Linked DNA regions of Homo sapiens: region 1 is linked to region 2. The links come from fine-mapping of genetic effects on gene expression. A gene starts in region 2. The other region holds a variant in brackets. All regions are shown on one strand. Distances are between the middles of the regions.

Region 1 (8,421 bases), 71 kb before region 2:
TTGAGGCAGGGTCTCACTTTGTGCCTAGGCTGCAGTGCAGTGGCACGATCGTGGCTCACTGCAGCCTTGACCTCCTGGGCTCAAGGGATCTTCCTGCCTCGGCCTCCCAAGTAGCTGGAACTACAGGAGCACACCACCACACCCAGCTAACTTTTAAATTCTTTATAGAGACGAAGCTTGACCATGTTGTCCAGGCTGGTCTTGAATTCCTGGGCTCAAGCAATTTACCCACTTTGGCCTCCCAAATTAATTGCTGGGCCTATAGGCATGAGCCACTGAGCCTGGCCCATGATGCCTCCTGACAGTGGAACACAACTGAGCTCCTGGTGTAGAGACAGATTTATTGGCATGGAGAAGCACATTCTATATTGCTAAGCTTTGTAAAAGCAGGTTAGCAAACAATCTGAAAAGAGAGATCTAGAAAGGTGTTCACTGGGGCTGGGTGCGGTGGCTCATGCCTGTAATCCCTACACTTTGGGAGGCCGAGGCTGGCAGAGCACGAGGTCAGGAGATCGAGACCACCCTGACTAACATGGTGAAACCTCATCTCTACTAAAAATACAAAAAATTGGCCGGGCGTGATGACAGGTGCCTGTAGTCCCAGCTACTCGGGAGGCTGATCCAGGAGAATGGCGTGAACCCGGGAGGTGGAGCTTGCAGTGAGCCAAGATTGCGCCACTGCACTCCAGCCTGGGCAGCAGAGCGAGACTCCGTCTCAAAAAAAAAAAAAAAAAAAAAAGGTGTTCACTAGGAGGTCAATAGTGGGTACAATTTGGGTTTTTATTGTTCTTGTTATTTCTGTATTATTTAAATATATTAGAGGCTGGGCGTGGTGGCCCATGCCTGTAATCCCAGCACTTTGGGAGTCCAAGGTGGGTGGATCACTTGAGGTCAGGAGTTCGAGACCAGTCTGGCCAACATGGCGAAACCTTGTCTCAACCAAAAATACAAAAATAAATGGAGCATGGTGGCATGCACCTGTTAAGTCCCAGCTACTCAGGAGGCTGATGCAGGAGAATCACTTGAACTTGGGAGGCAGAGGTTGCAGTGAGCTGAGATCACACCACTGCACTCTAGCCTAGACAAGAGTGAGAGACTCCATCTCAAAATATACATATAAATAGATAGATAAATATACTATGTGTAGAATATATTATAATATTATATATGTATATGTATATGATTTACCTGATAAATAGAACCATTGACAGTATATGTGATATGTGCCTGGTACAGTGGCTCATACTTGTAATCCCAGCACTTTGGGAGGTTGAGGTGGGAGGATCTCTTGGGCTCAAGAGTTCAAGACCAGCCTGGGCAACAGTGAGCAAGACCCCATCTCTACCAAAAAAAAAAAAAAATTAATTAGCCAGGCATGGATATGCACACCTGTAGTCCCATAGTGGTGCACACCTGTAGTCAGGAGGCCAAGGTGGGAAGATCACTTGCGCCCAGGAGCTCAAGGTTACAGTGAGGTATGATCACACCACTGCACTCCAGCCTGGGTGACAGAGTGAGATCCCATCTAAAAGAACAAAAAAGCAAGCTGGACTTCGCGGCTCACACCTGTAATCCCAGCACTTTGGAAGGCCAAAGTGGGTGGATCGCTTGAGCCCAGGATTTCGAGACCAGCCTGGGCAACATAGTCAGCTCTTGTCTCCTTAATAAATAAATAAGTAAATAAATGCAAAAAAGTATATGCGATACAATCTTATTTTCATTTAAAATGCATATACCATACACAGAAGAAGACTAGAAAGATATATGGTAAACTATGAATGGTTAGCCCTATGTAATGGGATTACAGGTGATTTTCATTTTCTTCTTTTTCCTTATCTGCCTTTTCTACTTCTCCTATAATGAATATATATTACTTGTTTAATTTTTCAAGTGTTGTTGTTTAAGAGCTGCTCCTCTTATTATGTTTGCCAAAGCCTCAGAGCCTCCATTGGGAAATACGTTAATCCAGTCAAGATCTTCTTGTCCTGGAAACAAACTCCAGGGCTGGTCTACTGTGATTTTAAGTATCTAGGAGGATATGAAATTAGGGGAGGGTGGGAGTCCCCCATTTTCTGGTCATTGTCAATTTTATAAAGATGGCAGCCTAAGGAACTCCCTAAACTACTTGATCCAGCCAGTTGGTGTTGCCTTTAAACTTCAAAGCCAAAGAGGGGGTGATAAGTGGGAAATCCCACTTTCTGATACCAGTGATAAGAAATTCTCCTGCTCTTCTCCTTCCAGATAAATAACGCTGACCCACCACCCTCCATGCAGCCCCTCTTGGAAGAAGAGTCATAAAAATATGGCAGGCAAAAGCATCTGTAAAAGGATGACAGGATGACATAATGCCAGGAAAATTTACAATCGATTTAGCAGACAGAGGTGGCTGTCAGTCTGGGGGCTCTCCAGAGTTCAAGCATGCCCATAAAAGAACTCAACAACCCAAAGACTCTACTGCGAGGAAGAGATCTCCCTGCAAATCCACCTGTCACTGGTGAGCAGAAATTCCCTGAGGGAGCGGGAACTGGTGTATCTGTGTCTGGAACAGCCAAGGATGGAAAGAGGAAGACCCCTGGAGTGGACAAAGGGGACTTCTCCAGTGATTTAGGGCTCTGGATCTCCCCCCAGCAAAAGTCCTTCTGGTGCCCTAGGGGTCTTGAAAAAGTCGGCCCACAGAGGGACAACCATGGAAAACGAAACTCGAGGGGCTTGGGGTGGGAGGGAGTGTCGAGGCCCAGTTGCTGCTGTCTGGTAGAGCTAACACACAGGCCCCAAACATGCGTGACCTCTGGTTCACATCAGCACTGCTGATCAAAAGCAAGCAGCTCACTCCACCTGGCCCAGGCCTCCCCATCCAGGGAGGATTCAAAGCTACTGGCTTCATGGCTGGTGTGGCTTCCATTAACCCAGAGGTTGGTGTTGCGGACTTCGAGAAAAGTTGAACATCAAACGTAATGAATCATGAGAAACCAATAGCTTGGGCCAGCCCAGTGACCTTTTAAAGAAAGATAATATTACTTAAAACGAACATAGCCGTGGAATCATTAAGATAAACAGTATCGGTTCGAACTCACTTCAATTTCAACTGCAGACAGCTGTCTGGGAAGACTTGTAGGTGCCGTTTTCCTCACCGTGGTTTGTCTAGCCCCTATCTTGCTAAGTCGAGCGCGTGTCTTTCGCTGGCCCCTAGATAAATAGCAAGGAAGATGCCATGCTGGGGATTAGGAGCACTGCAATTGCTGAAGAGAGTATTTTCCATCGTGAGATCTTTGTATGTCCAAAGAATTTCCGGCATCAAAACCAATGAACTGCTCATCTTGCTTTCCTGCCCACTGTTAGGTACACAAATAAGTATCAATAGCCCTGCCCCAGCATCCCCTGGGGTTCTAAAATATCACAGACAACCCAAAGGATAGTGTGTGTGTGAGTGTGAGTATGTGAGTGTGTGTGTGC[GTGTGTGTGCA/A]TGCTCATGCTCACGTGCCATCCTTGTATTTTTATATATACATGCTTTCTGCATTGTCCAAACATTTGCATACAAGTAGACATGGGGTATTTTGTGATGCAGACAGAATCCTCACTTCAAGAAATCAGATCAGTTTCAGGCAATTCCCGGGTTCAGCGAGAGGCCAGTCTACCCAGAAACGTAAACCAGTTCCAGCCAGGGTGAGGTGAATGCTCACTAGACAGACGTATTGGCCCCACATAGGTTCAGCTCAAACGCACACACTGAAGTACACGCACACACACACACATGCACGCATGCATGCACACACTAATTTTGTGCTTAGCTGTCATAAAACTTAAGACACTTATATGAGGGTGAAAGGTCAGGAGGGGGAAGCATTATTTTCTGTTATTAATTACACCTTATCCATTCTACATGTGCTGCACTCGTCTTAGATAAAGTTACAGTTCTATTTTATTAGGAAGCCTCCAGGATCATGTAAAGGGGGATTTTGGATTGAGACAAAGGAAATCGCAGGATGGGGAAAGGGCGGGGGGTCAGGGGTTCATTTGTTCTCCTGCTCAGAAGCCAAGCCAGGCTTCTCCTCTGCCATTTCCAAGACTGAATCTGCACATTCTTGAAATAGCTCATCCTGCAAATGCTAAATGAACCTGGTCCCTAACCAACTCAGTCCTGAGCAGGCTTTGGGAGAAGAGAAGGAAAGGAGAAGGCAGTGAAGGAGAACAAGTGGGGTAAACCACCAGCCAGGCTGCTGCTGAGTTCAAAGACAAAAGTGAGGCCAGCCAAGGGGAAGACTTGAAAGTTCAAGTTCAAATCTGTGTCACCCCTGCCTGCCTTGCAATGGGTAGCTGCCTGCAGGGATTCTTACTGAACTTGGAGCTCCCATGAGGGAGGAATAGGCCTGGGGATGGAGTGCTGGTTGGTTATAGGCAGAGGGAAGCCCTCGTGGTTAGACAGAAAGGACCCTTGAGCCCCATCACCCCTGGCTAACAAGGAGAGAAAACTGTCCATTGTGGGAAACAGGGACCAAGACTCCCCAGACCAAAGAGGTTGCAAAATGGCAGGGTGGAAAGGGGATTGTAAGAGCGTAGAATGCAGCCAGAATAAAACTCCAGGACTAAAAAAAACCTAGATTTGAATCCTAGCACCAACCTTTTCCTTGGTTAAGTCGCTAGCTCTCTCCGAGCCTCAGTTTCCCCAATTTGGAAACAAGGAGAAATAACATCAATAATAGCATGGATAACACTACGGTCACTAACAGCAACAATTACACTAAAACCACTGCAACACACAGCAGTAAGGATAATAAGCCCTTCCTACGGTACTGTAAGATAGCATAATGAGAAGCACATCAGGACCCATAAATCATAGTGCAGATATAATTTATTGTTATTAATATGATCTGCCCTGTCCTTCCCCAGCCCCTCGGGCTGCCAGGAAAGTCTGTGCTCTGTCATCATGCACTTGAAGACAGGTTGTTTTGTCCCTTCCCTCTTCTTGTTTCTAATCACAATGTTCTAATTCTCCGGCTGAGGTTGAATTCAATTCTCAGTCAGAGCTCGATACCATATATCACCCCCTGTCCAGGATAGCGATCTGGCTTCTGTCTTCTAAGCACTCCAGAGCCGCCAAGTGCCGAGCGCTTACTATGTGCCAGGCGCGGGTTCCACTTTCAGCATTAGCAATCACATTTACGGCTCCCAGCAATGCAGCCAGAGACGTATTTGTATAATATCACCCCCATTTCACACAGGAGGAGACTAAGGTTCAGGGAACTGATCTCCTCCCAAGAATGTCTCGCTCCAAACGAGCACGTTCTTCCGCCAAAGTGCACTAACACCATGCCATCGGGTCTTTGGACAACTTGGTAAGGCAGACTCCAGCTTACTCCAATGGTCATGGTATACACAAGGAAACAAACTCAAGCAGGACCCTGCTATCTCTTGAGTTCAATTAAACATTCACCAACCCTCAACTGTGATTTCAAGGAACATGGAAGACGAGGAGGGAGGGAGGGAGCGAGGAGGCCGCCTGCATGAAGTTGGAGCATGTCTATCTGCACATCAGAATGTTTCCTGGGGGTTCCGCCAGGAATTGAGGCCTGTGGGCCCTACTGGCAGTCCTGCCAGTGAATCCAAGGCCCCAGCTCCCTTTGATCCTCTCCACAGTTCATGCCTCCCCTGAGGGAATCCCACCTTGCAGCCCTGATGTCTAACTTGTGATATCCCAGTAGTGTCCCTAAGAGCACCAGGCTAGCCGGGGGACTTTGAGGTCTGGTGACACTGAGAGGGACTCGATGTTCTGGGAGAGAAAAGACAGCCAGCTTCCTAGGGATAGAGCACCTCCATGTGCCAGATATTACCTTGCAAGTCCCCTCGCTGCTCATTCACTTGTTCCCTATATTTTTTTCTTTTTCTTTTTGAAACAGGGTCTCGCTCTGTCACCCAGGCTGGAGTGCAGTGGTGCGATCACGGCTCACTACAGCCTGGACCTCCCGGATGCTCAAGTGATCCTTCCACCTCAACTTCCAAGTAGCTAGAACTACAGGCATATGCCACCATGCCCAGCTAAGTTTTTGTAGAGATGGGATCTCACTATGCTGCCCAGGCTGGTCTCGAGCTCCTGGACTCAAGTGATCCGCCTACCTCAGCCTCCCAAAGTGCCGGGATTCCCGGCATGAGCCACGGTCTCTATTTCTCCTTATGTAGCTGAGTTTTCATGTTTCTGTTTTGCAGGTGTTGTCTGTATTTCTGACCCTCTCCTTGGCTCTGTTCTTCTGTAGAAAAGAGAATTTGTGGGTAATTCTCTCTGTCTCGCTCCCTTTTCTTTTTTCTTCTGCTGCTTCTTTCATGCTCTCAGACTTTTAAACTTTTAACCTCTATCTCTTCCCTCTCCGTCTCTCTCTTTCTCTCTCTCTCTCTGCCTGACTCTTTCATTCTTTGTCTATTTCTCCTCTGTCTGTCTCTGTCTCTCCCTCTCCTTACATGGCCTCTACCCCATCTCTGCCTATTTCCCCATATGTGGCCTGCCTGTCCATCCTCTGTCTGCCAGAGCACCGGGAAAGCCCAGTCATTCCACAGAACAATTAGCAGCAGCCACCAGGGAAACATGGTTCATGGTGATGAGATTCACCGCAGTCCAAAGCCCATCCAGGGCACACAGGGTTTGGACAAACCTGTCTAATACCTTCCTCACCTTCTGTCCATCACCGAAAACAAGCCTGTGTTCACAGAGGATCAGGGTCATTTCAAATAACTGAACATGTTATTAGGAGACAAAACACTGCTGACAAGGATTCCTGGGAGGTTTTTGCTATGTGGGGGGTCAACGGCCTCCATTCTCCCTGAAAGGCTTCCAGACATGCTCATCAATTTCCAATTTACTATTTAGTCCAACATTGCTGGGGGCTTCCAGGCCCACACTAGGAGGCTGGCTCTACATTTTCATGTTTTCCAGCCAAAAATGTCCCTTTGGCTAAACCTCGGAGCTCATCTACATTTTGAAACATTGTGAACCAAACCAATCCACACATATGAAGGGCCAGGGTGTCTTTGGCACAGCACCACCCCTCACCCCAACATACAGACATTTATTAGGCAAGTGTCTGCCAAGAACCCAGCATTTGCTGAGCCATTTGACTAAAATTCCTCCTTTTTAAATATTATTTGTAGAGATGGGGTCTCCCTGTGTTGCCCAGGCTGGTCTCTAACTCCTCCTGGGTCTAAGTGATCCTCTCACCTCGGCCTCTCAAAGTGCTGGGATTTAAATTCCTTATTTTAGTTTTAACTTCTCAGTGGAAGTGAATAGTATTAATTTTCTTATTGTAGACCGAAGGCTGAGATTCAGGTTAAACACAGTGACTTTTCCAAGGTCACTCACCCAGTGTGATAGCAGCCCTGCTGAACTGCTCTCTTTAACAGGCAAGAGAGAAACAGAGTAAGAAATGAGCCTGGGCCAGGCACAGCTGTGCACACCTGTAATCTCAGCACTTTGGGAGGCCTGGCCTGGGGGATCACTTGATCCCAGGAGTTGGAAAACAGCCTGGACAACACAACGAAACCCCGTCTCTACAAAAAATAAAAAATTAGCTGGGCATGGTGGTGCCCACCTGTAGTCCCAGCTACTCAGGAGGCTGAGATGGGAGGATCACTTGAGCTCAGGAAGTTGAGGCTACAGTGAGCTGTGATTGCACCACTGTCCTCCAGCCTGGGTAACAGTGCATGACCCTGTCTCAAAAAAAAAAAAAAAAAAAAGCCACACATGGTTGCTCATGCCTATAATCCTAGGACTTTGGGAGGTCGAGGCGGGTGGATCATCTGAGGTCAGTAGTTCGAGAAGAGCCTGGCCAACATGGTGAAACCCCATCTCTACTAAAAATACAAAAATTAGCTGGGCATGGTGGTACTCACCTGTAATCCCAGCTACTTGGGAGGCTGAGGCAGGAGAATCGCTTGAACCCGGGAGGCAGAGGTTGCAGTGACCGTGATCACACCATTGCACTCCAGACTGGGCGACAGAGTGAGACTGTCTCAAAAACAAAACAAAAACAAAAGTGAGAAAAGAAATGAGCCTGAGCTTTGATTATTGTTTCATGCTGATCCTCGTCTCACTGATTTTCTTTCTCCTCTCACCGATTTGCATTAGAACTGGGTTTTGTTTCTGCATTTTTGTCACTAAGCTTCCAGCACCCATCCCCGTGCAGAAACAGAATTTCTCCTCTCTAGAAAACAGCTTTTTTGGCTAGAGAAACGCTATTTTCTCCTCCATGTAGGGGCAGGAGGCATTCCGAATAGTTAGCTTTTGGAAGGCAAATTTGGCATCCGGGATTGTTTTCTGCCTTATTAAACTTTTCAGAAACTGTATCTCTTTTAAACAGCCTAAGGGGGCTCTCCCCGCATCCAGTTCCCCCTCCAAAGGACCCTCTCTATCAGCCCACACGTTCCCTCATCCCATCT
Region 2 (8,421 bases):
GGCGTTTCACGGTTTGTTTTACAAATTCACCCTCCCTCCCCGACTTCTGGCCAGATTAAGTCCCCGGGGTGGAGAAAGAACTGAGGCACCGAGAGATAAGTGCGATGCCTAGAGAAGATACCAGGCTGGCGCGCCTCCCCCAACCCAATCGCCCACCCCTTACCCTGTGCTGTGCACCCAGCCGGGCCTCGAGGTGAGGGCAGCGGCTTGGAGGGGACAGGCTCAGAACCCAGTCTCTCGCTGTGCTCGCTTTGTCCAGATCCTCCATTCTCTTCTCTACACCCACACCCACATCCAGGTGGAATATGGGGGCCCGCATGCAAATGAAAGACGAGATCCAAAAGGGCTGGTAAATGCATTTCATAAAAATCCCAAATCCATCTTCCCCAGGAGCTCAGGCAGGGCCAGCCGCGCAGGCTGTGTACGTGTTTGTGTGTACGTGTTTTTCGGTGTGTGTTTCAGTCCCAGTGTGTTGGCGCGTGTTCGAGTACAGATACACCGGGGGTGTTTGGGTACCCGCACATGGCTGCGGGTGGGGCGCAGTGGAGAGGAAGCCCACACATGCGTGTGCTGAGATATGGCCGCATCCTTGTGCTCCCCCAGCCCAGACGCAGGGGAGACCAGCACCGAGACACCCGAGCTCGGGAGCCCTTCAGCGGCGGCCGGGCGGAGCTTGGCTCCACGTGGGGCTGGAGAGCACGCAAGCCTGGAGTCTCGGCGCTCGCTTCTCGGCTGCCGCCGGCTTTTGTAGAACCGAGTGGCCGGATGGCAGCTCGCGGGGAGGCTCGGCCACCCGCCCGGCTCGCCCGGGGCGGGGAGAAGAAGGAGAGCTGGAGAGAGAACCGGCCGCGGCGGTCGGAGAGGCGAGCGGAGTGCAAGAGAGGCGAGCGCCCCTGCCCGGCGCCCGGGCGCGCTCTCCGCCTTCCCCGCCCGGCTCGCCTGCTCGCTGGCTCCCTCCCTCTCTCCCTCCCCCTTCCTCCTTGGCCCTGCCTCCTCCCTCGATCCCCGGCTGGATGACTGAGGCATTTCAGACGTGGGCTGAACCAGAGCGAGCGAGCGAGCTCAGGGGCTGCAGCGATCTCTCGATAAGCCACCTAGAGGCGACTCTGTGCGCGCGCGCTCCCCAGTGGCTCCCGCCCGCCCTCTGATCATGTTGACATATTCACAGGACAGGCAGTAGTACCGATGCGGCGCTGCGACGTTACAGTTTCCGACACCTTCTTTTTATAACTCAGCTCTATCCCCCAGCACTCGACCTGTGAAAACCACGCCTATGCAGCAACACAATTGGTCCGAAAGCGTCAAAGAGCCAATCAAGAGGCCTCCGGCTCCCCGCAGCCCACAGCGCAGCCCGACCTTCTAGAGCCGCCGAGCAGACGCCCGGTGAATTCTAGAGGCGGCGGAGGGTGGCGAGGAGCTCTCGCTTTCTCTCGCTCCCTCCCTCTCCGACTCCGTCTCTCTCTCTCTCTCTCTCTCTCCCCTCCCTCTCTTTCCCTCTGTTCCATTTTTTCCCCCTCTAAATCCTCCCTGCCCTGCGCGCCTGGACACAGATTTAGGAAGCGAATTCGCTCACGTTTTAGGACAAGGAAGAGAGAGAGGCACGGGAGAAGAGCCCAGCAAGATTTGGATTGAAACCGAGACACCCTCCGGAGGCTCGGAGCAGAGGAAGGAGGAGGAGGGCGGCGAACGGAAGCCAGTTTGCAATTCAAGTTTTGATAGCGCTGGTAGAAGGGGGTTTAAATCAGATTTTTTTTTTTTTAAAGGAGAGAGACTTTTTCCGCTCTCTCGCTCCCTGTTAAAGCCGGGTCTAGCACAGCTGCAGACGCCACCAGCGAGAAAGAGGGAGAGGAAGACAGATAGGGGGCGGGGGAAGAAGAAAAAGAAAGGTAAAAAGTCTTCTAGGAGAACCTTTCACATTTGCAACAAAAGACCTAGGGGCTGGAGAGAGATTCCTGGGACGCAGGGCTGGAGTGTCTATTTCGAGCTCAGCGGCAGGGCTCGGGCGCGAGTCGAGACCCTGCTCGCTCCTCTCGCTTCTGAAACCGACGTTCAGGAGCGGCTTTTTAAAAACGCAAGGCACAAGGACGGTCACCCGCGCGACTATGTTTGCTGATTTTTCGCCTTGCCCTCTTTAAAAGCGGCCTCCCATTCTCCAAAAGACACTTCCCCTCCTCCCTTTGAAGTGCATTAGTTGTGATTTCTGCCTCCTTTTCTTTTTTCTTTCTTTTTTGTTTTGCTTTTTCCCCCCTTTTGAATTATGTGCTGCTGTTAAACAACAACAAAAAAACAACAAAACACAGCAGCTGCGGACTTGTCCCCGGCTGGAGCCCAGCGCCCCGCCTGGAGTGGATGAGCCTCTCCATGAGAGATCCGGTCATTCCTGGGACAAGCATGGCCTACCATCCGTTCCTACCTCACCGGGCGCCGGACTTCGCCATGAGCGCGGTGCTGGGTCACCAGCCGCCGTTCTTCCCCGCGCTGACGCTGCCTCCCAACGGCGCGGCGGCGCTCTCGCTGCCGGGCGCCCTGGCCAAGCCGATCATGGATCAATTGGTGGGGGCGGCCGAGACCGGCATCCCGTTCTCCTCCCTGGGGCCCCAGGCGCATCTGAGGCCTTTGAAGACCATGGAGCCCGAAGAAGAGGTGGAGGACGACCCCAAGGTGCACCTGGAGGCTAAAGAACTTTGGGATCAGTTTCACAAGCGGGGCACCGAGATGGTCATTACCAAGTCGGGAAGGTAAGCAGTGGGGGCCTCCTCCCCTAAGCTGTTGGAGAGTTTTTTCCTCCCTTTATTTCTCTGCTCCCAGAACAGTCGGTTGGTCGGTTATTACGGCTTGGACGAAAAGTTAGTTCCCCTAGAAATGTATGCACAGACTTCCAGGCCCTGCCCCGGTGGCAGGAAATTTCAGCTTACCTGGGCATCTGCATGGGTCTTGCATTTGGTCTGCATCCTGGGTTCCCTCCCGAACAGACAGAATTTTTCAGTGGAGCACAGACATCCCTGCAGGGAGCAGGAAAGAAAAAAAAAAAAGGCACTCTACTGCAAGAAACTCACTCTTCAAACCCTCCTGGAACATCCTTATTTCTTTGTTGATGTTGTGTTGTCTGTTTTATTTTGTTCTCAGAGAGAAAAACTTAAAGCCCTTTCCTTTTGTGTGGGTATTGGGAGGCCTGACACCATTCCCCGGCCCTTTCTGCCCTCCAGTCTAGCCTCTGGGTCTAAAGGGGCCTGCTGCTGCCCTGGTCAGAGAGAAATCGAAGGGCATTTTGGTTTGTTTGCCCACACTACTTCACGTGTCTGTAACCCAAGGGCGAGTTCAGCAGGCAATTTTGCATAATTTAAGATTATGTTTGCAGACTTAAGGAGCCAGTGAGGAGACACACACCTTTTTTTTAATGTGTGAATATTATCAACCATATTTTACATAATGTTTAAAGGTCCTTGCCTGACCAAAACCTGCCTGGAAGAGAAGATCCTGTAATAGTCATTTAAAATCACTGATTTTTTTTTTGTAATAGCATTGAAGCCTGTAAAGGCATAAAGTTGATACAAAAATAAAATCCCCTTCATGATATCTTAAGCGTTCTGTCTCCTTCCAAGCTAAATGAGGCCAAAGTTTGGCATAAAATCCTCCTCAAACTCACAAGACATTTAGTCAGTTTTCCAGCAAAGTGCTTCCTTGCTTCCTTTTAAGTCAAGACTACAGAATGCCAACCCTTCTGTGAAATTAACAGCAATGTGGTGGCACAGTCTTGCGGTTTTGGACTGGCCTAAGAAGTGGGGGAATGTGTTAGCAGCTCCACGGGCAGATCGGTTATCAGGCCCAGGAGTGCACCGAAGTCTGCAAAATTCGTTCTGGGAACTCACTGAAGTCCAGTTTCACTTCGCCCACAGCGGGATTGCTATTCTGCAGCAGGGAGGGGTGCAACTTGACGTTCATTTCCTTGATAAGTTTAACATTTTCTCATCAATGGGTGGTGGAAAATTCTAGTCTTAACTGACCGCGCTTTACAAAAATCTTACCCCAACCTGTTTAGATCTAGATACCCACAGAAAAAGACATGGGCAAGAATTTGCTCTCAGGAGGGCAATCTGTAAAGTCAAGCAAGGACAAAAAAAATATTGAAGAAATTGTTAGACAATGTAGAGAATTGCAGTGCCACAATGCATTTGTTTTGAACCTTGGGACGTCTAAATATGGCGAAACTGAGAATATTTAATACGTTAGTTGTGGAAGAAAACGATTTTGCAACCAGTTGCCTCACTCTGAAACATGTAAGCTTATCAGTCACAATATAAAGTCTTAGACTTGGTTTCAATATTATGTGATACATAGGAAATCAAACCCAAGATTACGGGTGGTTTATCTTTCTTTTTCTTTTCTATTCTTTCGTTTTATAGGCGAATGTTTCCTCCATTTAAAGTGAGATGTTCTGGGCTGGATAAAAAAGCCAAATACATTTTATTGATGGACATTATAGCTGCTGATGACTGTCGTTATAAATTTCACAATTCTCGGTGGATGGTGGCTGGTAAGGCCGACCCCGAAATGCCAAAGAGGATGTACATTCACCCGGACAGCCCCGCTACTGGGGAACAGTGGATGTCCAAAGTCGTCACTTTCCACAAACTGAAACTCACCAACAACATTTCAGACAAACATGGATTTGTAAGTTTCATTGCTCTCTTCAGTAAAATTTTCTCCTCCTTCACTCAGTCAAAGGCAGTGCTTCCCATTTCATGAGTTTCAGCCCAGACTTCTCCTTTGCTTCTCCCTAAGCATAGCAAACTTGTCCTCGTCTGGAAAAAGGATTCGGGGTGTTTCTCTCCAAATAATGGAAGGCCTGGCGTTCTAAAAGAAATGGGGCAAGAAAACTTACCGGCTTGTGTTCTATAGCAATTCCAGCTCTTTGGTAGATTCCTGACCTGAGAGTGAAGTTAAAAACCATTTTTTAAGAGCTAAAATCAATTTCAAGGCTATGTATTCCTAAAGGATTTGTTTTGTTTTAAAATATCATACTTCTGTTTTGAAACCAGTGATATTATTTTCTCAGGAGAGTTTACGTTTCGGAGCCTTGACTCTGTTGGTTAAATGGTGTGAATACATTTTTAAAAACTCGTTCTTTTACTAAAAAAAGAATTGGGCTTAGGTGGGAGTCCGGCTTACCCTAAATGAGGCTTAGATCTTCAGAAAAAAATGGTTTGTGTGTTGGGAGTGTATATATGGATTCAGTGACAGTGCTTAGAAACTTAGAAAACTTTCATTGCTTGTAGATATCAGGCAAAGGACCTTTTGCGCCTTTTCCTACCCCTCCCCAACATTTCAATAAAATAAACAGCGTGATAAGCAAGGAGTAAGCAGAAAGATTAGGCCCAGGAAGACGCGAATGGCGCGGAAATATCTTCAGCGGGCAGGAATTGCATTTGAAGCCCTTGATTTGATTAAGGCATAAATATTCCTCTCTAGAGTTCAGCCTTTCAGGGCTTTAAGTGGATTGGGCTCGTCAATTAGTGGGCGCTTAAAGTACTGAATCATTTTGTAAATTAAAATGCATGTTTTTCTCTATCTTTTAAGACTTTGGCCTTCCCAAGTGATCACGCTACGTGGCAGGGGAATTATAGTTTTGGTACTCAGGTAGGCTAGGGTTCAAGGTATGAATGATCCTTAGATGGTGAGGGTGGGGGGGGCCCTTTGGCAACTGAGGAGCAATTTGGATTCTCCAGAAGATAACATCTGTGGAGCGAAACGTACCCAGGGGGTACTCCAAGGAGGTGGGCTCGGTACAAGCGTGGTACCCTGCGGTGGGGAAGATTTCAGCCTGGCAGGGGTCCTAAGATCCCGTTTGTTCTGCTAAATCCTTGTTTTATGTATGTCTCCTCTTCCCTGCCCCTGCAGACTATATTGAACTCCATGCACAAATACCAGCCCCGGTTCCACATTGTAAGAGCCAATGACATCTTGAAACTCCCTTATAGTACATTTCGGACATACTTGTTCCCCGAAACTGAATTCATCGCTGTGACTGCATACCAGAATGATAAGGTAAACTCAAGGGGCTTTCCTTTTTAATGGTGATATTTTGCCTTCCCCTTAAAAGCTGCTTTAAGTCAGGATGAGAAAGTTACAAGAGAGTGGAGACGAGAGTCTTGAGTTGTCTTTTGTGATTTGTGGAGCATTTGGGGGGAAAGGACAATGACACCTCGAGGAGACAGAAAAACACCTTGACTAGGTAGGAACAATGCTGAGCAAAAAAACGCCATACTAATTTTGCCACAGAGAAACTCCTAGAACTGCTGTCATTGATGCCACCCACTCCTCCCCCCCTCTTGGGCTTTGTCCTGTCTGTTTTAAGGTTCATCTTCTTCCCCTTGGGGAAGAAGGATCAAGAAGTCACATTCAAAAGGAACCAGCTAAAAATTTAAGGCAAAAGCCATTTGGGATCCTGGGAGGAGAATCCTAGTAGAGACCAGCTTTTCTCCCCTAGCCAGAAATCCTGAGTAGCTGGTCTGGTTTTTATTACCTTTTATGCTGCTGTGTTATGATGTGTGTGTGTGTGTGCATGTGTGTGCATGCATGCGTGTGGTTGGAAAAACCTACCCTGATCACAGGGTCATATTAATCGAGTTGTCTGAGGCTTTTGAGTTGGGGTGGCCAAAGTCACCACTTCATTTGAATTCCCCCCCTCCCCCAGGCCTGAATCTGGAGGTTAGAAGGATCCCCAAAAGGGAAAGCACCTGATATCTAGAGCTATGGTGGCCTGAAGGTCATGGGCACAGAAAAAGTGACCCTTACTGCTGATTCACCAGTTCCCAGATTGGCTGTTAGCAGTTATGGGGTGGGAGGAGGGACTGAAGACCCCTGCTCTGCAATCCTGGACTTCAAAGAGAGTCCATTTTACCTGACAACACACTTCATTTTGAACTCACTGTCATTGTCACTGTCCTTGGGTCCTCTGTGGACTTCATGATGGGGATGTTCCAGCTAAATTTCTTTAGTGTGAATACCAAAACATGATCTTCTCTCCCTGTGAAACCTGAAGTCTTCAATAGAGCAATTTATTCCAAGAACATGAATCCAACCAAGGGTCCCCCTTTCCACCTCTGAGTAACTCTGTGTATATAACTTCTTCTTCCCACCAAGGGGAAGGGATTTGAAAGATTACACACTATAGCATTTTTCTCAAAGTGCAAAATGCATGTGCCCTCTAGACCCAGAATCCTGTGAAATGAAGTTGTTAATGTAATAATAAAATGTAGCATTTTTGATCAGACAAAAAGGCCATGGGCCTTCTCCACCTAATGGCCATGGCAGAGCATATAAATGAAAACAGATGTTTCCAGTGGTCATTCAGTACTGTAACTGTCAATATTGTAATTTCCTCAAACCACCCCCCAGGCAAAGAAAAAAAAAATTAAACTCACTCCCGCACTCACTCCCGCACAAGGGTAGTGAAACCCCATAAATCATTTATTGGATTCATGGAAAAGGAGTGTGTGTGTGTGTGTGTGTGTGTGTGTGTGTGTGTGAAGGGAGTATGCTATAATTTATGATTAATTGCACTGTATAAAAATCAAAATGAAAGCATAATTTTAAGATCTACAGGTTTTCCCTCTTGATGACTTTGACAACACTTCCATGTCTAAACCCAAACTGTTGGCTGCCCAAAGAAAAGAATTTCTTTGAATAATTTCATCCCCAAATCCCTGGTTTGGCCTCATATAGGAGATACAAGCCCTGCCACAGTTTCCTTATTATCTCCTTTCCCTGGCATATCTATATGACTTCTGTTGGCAGTCACATCTCTAGACTTGTTGAGTTGGGAAAAACACCCTCAAAACATTCTAGAAAATGAGAACAATGTCTCTGTCTTGCTTGTGTCTCTTCCAATAGATAACCCAGTTAAAAATAGACAACAACCCTTTTGCAAAAGGTTTCCGGGACACTGGAAATGGCCGAAGAGAAAAAAGGTGAGTTGAAACAATTATTTATTAGATAGTTTAGAAAAATCCCTTTTTTTAGGATCCAACTCTGAAGTGTTAGAAGTGAGATGCAGGCACTTATCCTAAGAGCGGGTGGAAATCATTCACTTTCCCCACTGCTACATGCTTGCCGCTATCAGTATACCCAGGACAAGTACTTTTCCTACCTCCTTACCTTTAAGGAAATTAACTAGGCTACACCATACTTATCTCTGGAAGAGAAGCATCAGGGATAATAGATTATACAGGGATGCCTATTAATTCCTAATTAATTTAAGTTCATCCTAGGCAGGTCCCAGAAAGAACCATGCCATTGAGAAAATACTTGGGAATTTTTGCAATCCTGTCTTCCAAATACCATCAGACAGAGCTGGGGACTTCGGAAAGATGTATGGCTCTCTCCCTCCTTCGTGGGGACATGTATCATTTTGCATTACGT

Evidence for each region. PIP is the estimated chance that this variant, and not a neighbour inherited with it, causes the effect.
Region 1: its variant is the best candidate, but not a certain one, in a credible set for the expression of TBX3-AS1 in testis (GTEx, PIP 0.55).

Annotation. Positions count from the first base shown.
Region 1 is chr12:114,747,665-114,756,085 of GRCh38, reverse strand. All of the region lies in intron 1 of TBX3-AS1 (TBX3 antisense RNA 1), which reads right to left. Among named protein-coding and RNA genes, the nearest start is that of TBX3, 68 kb to the right of the region's middle. The variant GTGTGTGTGCA/A (reference allele first, on the strand shown) is at 3,454.
Region 2 is chr12:114,677,129-114,685,549 of GRCh38, reverse strand. TBX3-AS1 (TBX3 antisense RNA 1) reads right to left here and starts at 3,258. Exons shown (of 2, transcript NR_187552.1): 1 at 2,916-3,258. It overlaps TBX3 (T-box transcription factor 3), which reads left to right and starts at 1,375. Exons shown (of 7, transcript NM_005996.4): 1 at 1,375-2,738; 2 at 4,404-4,671; 3 at 5,899-6,045; 4 at 7,894-7,970. The coding sequence starts at 2,350. RefSeq lists a promoter at 864-1,373.